2 separate regions of the Homo sapiens genome follow, and region 2 is linked to region 1. The links come from fine-mapping of genetic effects on gene expression. A gene starts in region 1. The other region holds a variant in brackets. All regions are shown on one strand. Distances are between the middles of the regions.

Region 1 (2,898 bases):
AGCCTCCCACGCCCTGCACTGCCTGGCAGGGCCAGCCCCTGCCCCCTCCGTCCTCTCTTAGGTCTCTAGAGACTTAACAGGTCGCGCTGGTGCTGGTGGATGGAGGGGAAGAATCAGGGGTTGGGGGAGAGAGATAAGGGTGGTGGTGGGGGGAGATAAGGGTGGTGGCGGAGGGAGAAGCCAGAGAAAGGCAGGGGAGATGAGACAGAGAGGAGCACAGATACAAGGCAAGACAGAAAAAATGAAGAAACAGCCCTCAAGAGAGAAGAAAAGGTGGGGGCGGAGGGGGGATACAGTCACAGAGGGAGGCTGAGAAGAGAGAGAGAGACTCAGAGAGCAGGGAGAGATAAAGGCAGAGACTGTGAAAGAGAGAGAAACAGAGACCCACAGAGATAGCAGAGCTGGAGGCAGAGACAGAGAGACAAAGTGAGAGCCTCCTCCCCAGAGATGGAGTGGACTGGTGGGGTAGGGACAAGTGGCGGGTCAGGGGGGTGGTGTTGGCAGGGAGAAGCGTTTTCCCCCAGGGCTCCAGAGCCCTCCTCATCCCACTGCCTGACTCGGTGCCCCTTCGGAAAGATTTCTTCCTTCCTGGCGACCCTCAGCTCAGCCCCTCTCCCCATGGCCCCCTTCTCAGGTCCAGCCCCCACCCCTGCCCTCAGCTTCTCCTTGTCTGTCTGTCTCTCCGGGTCCTCTCTTCTGTCCCCCCTGCCCTTCAGTTCCTCTCTCAGTCTTTCTCTCCCTCTGCCGCACTTGGTGTCTCTGAGTCTGTGTCTCCCTCCCTTGAAGTCCCTTTTCTGTGGTCCCAAGGAAACTCCCTAAGCCAGCCCAGGCCCCCCACACCTGCCATCATCCCCCACCTCCTACCCCTGCCCCAGCCCCTCCGAGGGGATCCCTGCCCCAAGGAGCCCCCATCACTCACCCCTGGGGGCCATGCACGCCCAGCCGCACAGCGCCAAGCACCAGGCCAGCGGGACCCTGCCCATCCTGGGGCACCGCCACGCCATGGGTGCCAAACTTTCCTCAGAAGTTGTTGGGCTCCCAGCGGGGGAGGGGGCAGGGCCGGGCTGTCCCCGGCCCTCCCCCCAGCTCCAGGCTCCCCGGATTTGGCACTGCCTGCCTGGCACAGCGGCAGGGGAGGCCCTTGCCACCGGCTCTGCCCAGCAGCCGCCTTCTCAGCACCCCTGCCTCCTTCCCTCACTCCCAGACTTGGGCAACCCTTTCTCCGCCCCTGGCTCCCCCTTTGCCTCCGCCCACCAGGGCCAGAGCCCAGGGGCCACCTGGACAATCAGGGGTTAACTCAAGAGAGGAGAGGATCAGCTCTTTCTTAAAGGGGCCAGGGAGGGAGCTGAGGAGGGGGAAGGGGACCCTGGTGGCTGTGCCCCCTGTCCTGAGCCAGTGAGGCCGTGTCTCTCTATCCGGGCTCTGGGCGCTGTCCCTCTGGGCTCTGTGTCTGGTAAACATTCCTCCAGAACTCCACTCCCCTCTCAGCTCAGGCCGTGACGCCCCTCTCCCCGCCTCCACCCCCAGCCCAGCCCCAGCCAGGCCTCCTTGGCCCTTCATTCCCCCTCACTCTCTCGGCTCCTCGGACAAGGACACACACACACACACACACACGCACGCACGCACGCACGCACACACACTCTTAGACGTCACTGACACACACAGGCTAGGACAAGCAGAGACACGCAGAGGGACCCAGACGGGCAGGGGCATGCTACTGGCCCACAGACACACTCAGACAAGCCAGGCCAGGAGCTCGATTCCTGGAGAAACCTCAGAGACAGGAGGACACGGCTGGGTGGGCATCCATGGGGGACACTTACTTGGGGAGACACAGATCTTCAGACACGCCAAAACCTGCATGGACGCCTAAATGGGACACCAAATACAGGCGACATGAAGGGGACCCAAGTTGGAATCCCAGTGCTACCACTAACTGTGGGCTACAGGCAAGTGACTGGCCTCCTGAGCCTCAGTTTGTCCATCTGTAAAATGGGAATAAGAATAGTTGTTGGCCGGGCACAGTAACTCACTCCTGTAATCCCAGCACTTTGGGAGGCCAAGGTGGGAGGATCGCTTGAGCCCAGGAGTTCGAGACCAGACTGGTCAATGCACTGAGACCCCCATCTCTACAAGAAGTTTAAAAATTAAAACTTAACCAGGTATCATGGCGTGTGCCTGTGGTCCCAGCTACTAGGGAGGCTGGAGTGAGAGGAACGCTTGAGTCCAAGAGATCGAGGCTGCAGTGAGCCCTGATCATTCCACTGCTCTCTCCTTCTGGTGGGACTGTGTGTCCTGGTTATTGCAGATCTGCTGCCTGCGTATCGGCTCTGCTGCACTTCCATTCCTCGGCCCTGTGTGTTTGGCACGTGGAGGGCTCTGCATGCCTGGATGTCTGTGAGGAGGAGGCTGGGCGTCTATCCCTCTGCTCTTGGCCACCTGTGTTTGGGTACTGGTATACCTACGGTGCATCATAAAGTCCTATCTGTTTGGCCTCCTGATGTCTCTTCTACCTGCCCCTTCCCAGCACCCCCGTCTGATCCTGCCTTCTCCTGCCTCTACTGTCACTCCTTTCTCCCATTTAGCAACCAGAGGACTGTTTCTGAAAGTCAAATCCTACCCTGTCCCTTCTCTGCTTGCCCATGGCCTCCTGCTGCCCTCAGGGCAAGCTCCCAGCTCCTTGTCACTGGCCACTTAGGGCCCTTCACCGTTGTCTCCCTGGGCTGTGTCTTTTTTTTTTTTTTTTTTTTTGAGACCCAGTCTTGCTTTGTTGCCCAGGCTGGAGTGCAATGGCTCGATCTCGGCTCACTGCAACCTCCATCTCCTGGGTTCAAGTGATCCTCCCACCTCAGCTTCCTGAGTTGCTGGGATTACAGGTGTGCACCACCATGCCAGGTT
Region 2 (2,898 bases), 110 kb before region 1:
GTTTGAGCCCAAGTTCGACACCAGCCTCAGCAACATAGTGAGACCGTGTCTCTAAAAAGAATAACAAATTAAAAAGAATAAATAGGCCAGATGCAGTGGCTCAGGTCTGTAATACCAGCACTTTGGGAGGCTGAGGTGGGCGGATCACAAGGTCAGGAGTTCGAGACCAGCCTGGCCAACATGGTGAAACCCTGTCTCTACTAAAAAGACAAAAAAATTAGCCGGGCATGGTGGCACACGCCTGTAATCCCAGCTACTCGGAAGGCTGAGGCAGGAGAATCGCTTGAACCTGGGAGGCGGAGGTTGCAGTGAGCCGAGATCATGCCACTGCACTCCAGCCTGGCAGACAGAGTGAGACTCTGTCTCAAAAAAAAAAAAAAAAAAAAATAGAAAAAAAAAGAAGAAATGAAGTGAAGGAACAAGCTGGAGTGGGTATCTGTGGGACTAGCAAGGCAGGCAGAGGGAACAGCAGATGCAGGAGCCCCGAAATAAGACTGTCTGAGGAACAGACAGGACGCCAGTGTGGCTGGAGTGGAGTAGGCGTGAGAGAGGGAGTTGAGATCAGCCAGATTTGATAGCACCTTGTGGCTCACGGTGAGGACTTGGGCATTTGCCGTGAGATGGAGCCAGGTTCAGAGCAGAGGAGTGACAAGACAATTTATAGCATGCCCATGGAGGGCAGAGATTTCTGTCTCTTTTTTAAAAAAATTGAAAAAAAATTTTGTAGAGACAGGGTCTTGCACTTTGTTGTCCAGGCTGGCATGCAGTGGTGTTATCATAGTTCACTGCAACCTCGAACTCCTCGACTCCAGCGATCCTCCCACTTCATCCTCCCAAAGTGCTGGGATTAAAGGTGTGAGCCACCATGCCTAGCCTATTTCTATCTGTTTCATTTGTCCTCAGTCCACAGTAGATCCCAGCCCAGCACACAGTAGTAGTTCAATAAACATTTGTTGCACAAATAGAGCAGATCAGTTTACATGGAGCTGTGTTATTTTGTATGTTCCAGGGTGTGGCATGCCATGATTTATTTAGCCCCCCCGTGGATGGTCATCTGGCTTCTTACAGGCTTGTCTTAAGCATTGCGTGAAATTAATTATTACATTGCTCTTAGCACTGGAGGAAGTGCTTAATCTGTGTTAGTGATTATCATGACTATTTGTGTTGTTATTAACACAGTGGGTGCAAGGGAGACCCAGATGGAGATAGGGCTGGGGGGGCAACCTAGGGTGACACACGCACCTGGGGAGGAGGGGCATGTGGCTTCTATGGTGGTAGCCCCTCCCTGCCCCTGA[C/T]GCGTCTCTCCTGCCTGCAGCTCCACGGAGAAGAACTGCTGCGTGCGGCAGCTGTACATTGACTTCCGCAAGGACCTCGGCTGGAAGTGGATCCACGAGCCCAAGGGCTACCATGCCAACTTCTGCCTCGGGCCCTGCCCCTACATTTGGAGCCTGGACACGCAGTACAGCAAGGTACGTCTGGCCCACCGGGCTACGAGATGCGCTTGGGGGGAGCCAGGACGGAGGAAGAGGAGAGAGAAAGAGAAGTAAAGTCAGAGAGGTGAGTTGGCAGGATGGGGAGAAAGAGAGGGATGGGGTGGGGAGGGGAATGAATAAAGAGATGGGGAGAGAGGCAGGAAGCTAGAGAGGGGCTCTGAGCAGGGGCCAGAGGGAGATGAGCTATGAAGACCCACAGAGTGAAGTAACAGAGGGATGGGGGTGAAGGGGAGAAGAGAGACAGGGAGATGGAAGGAAAAACGCAGAAATGGAGAGACAAAATGAGAGAGACAGATACAGACACAGAGTTAGGCCAAGGAGAGACAAAGACAGATACACAACAAGGCAAGAGGCGAAGATGAGGAGGGACAGAGACTGAGAAAGAAAATCAGGCGGGCGCGGCGGCTCACGATGGTAATACCAACACTTTGGGACGCTGAAGCAGGAGGATCGCTTGAGCCCAGGAGTTCGAGAGTAGCCCAGGCAGCAGACTGAGATCCCATCTCTACCAAAAAAAAAAAAAAAAAAAAAAAAAAAGCTAGGAGTGGTGGCGCTTGCCTGTGGTTGGAGCTACTCCGGAGGCTGAGGCGGGAGGATGGCTTGCGCTCAGGAGGTTGAGGCTGCAGCGAGCCATGATCGTGCCACTATACTCCAGCCTGGGTGGCAGAGCGAGACCCAGTCTCAAAACAAAAAGAAAATCAGACAGGTGGGGAGAGACAGAATAAGATAGGATGTTAGAAGATAAGAGAGACCGAATTGGAGATGGGAAGAGGGGATGCGGGGAGAGACGAAGTGAGAGAGGCTGGCGCGGTAGCGGGTGGGGGATGGGGCAGTGGAGGGCCGTTTTCCTCCCTCCACGAGCCCTGAGCCCTGACCCCGCCCGCCGCCCGCAGGTCCTGGCCCTGTACAACCAGCATAACCCGGGCGCCTCGGCGGCGCCGTGCTGCGTGCCGCAGGCGCTGGAGCCGCTGCCCATCGTGTACTACGTGGGCCGCAAGCCCAAGGTGGAGCAGCTGTCCAACATGATCGTGCGCTCCTGCAAGTGCAGCTGAGGTCCCGCCCCGCCCCGCCCCGCCCCGGCAGGCCCGGCCCCACCCCGCCCCGCCCCCGCTGCCTTGCCCATGGGGGCTGTATTTAAGGACACCCGTGCCCCAAGCCCACCTGGGGCCCCATTAAAGATGGAGAGAGGACTGCGGATCTCTGTGTCATTGGGCGCCTGCCTGGGGTCTCCATCCCTGACGTTCCCCCACTCCCACTCCCTCTCTCTCCCTCTCTGCCTCCTCCTGCCTGTCTGCACTATTCCTTTGCCCGGCATCAAGGCACAGGGGACCAGTGGGGAACACTACTGTAGTTAGATCTATTTATTGAGCACCTTGGGCACTGTTGAAGTGCCTTACATTAATGA

What was found. PIP is the estimated chance that this variant, and not a neighbour inherited with it, causes the effect.
Region 2: its variant is fine-mapped to the expression of AXL in whole blood (INTERVAL, PIP above 0.99).

The regions. Positions count from the first base shown.
Region 1 is chr19:41,217,499-41,220,396 of GRCh38, reverse strand. It overlaps AXL (AXL receptor tyrosine kinase), which reads right to left and starts at 1,174. Exons shown (of 20, transcript NM_021913.5): 1 at 920-1,174. The coding sequence starts at 1,004. RefSeq lists a silencer at 1,461-1,600 and an enhancer at 1,209-2,033.
Region 2 is chr19:41,330,699-41,333,596 of GRCh38, reverse strand. TGFB1 (transforming growth factor beta 1) reads left to right here. Exons shown (of 7, transcript NM_000660.7): 6 at 1,316-1,469; 7 at 2,387-2,898. The coding sequence ends at 2,545. Among named protein-coding and RNA genes, the nearest start is that of TGFB1, 22 kb to the left of the region's middle. The variant C/T (reference allele first, on the strand shown) is at 1,296.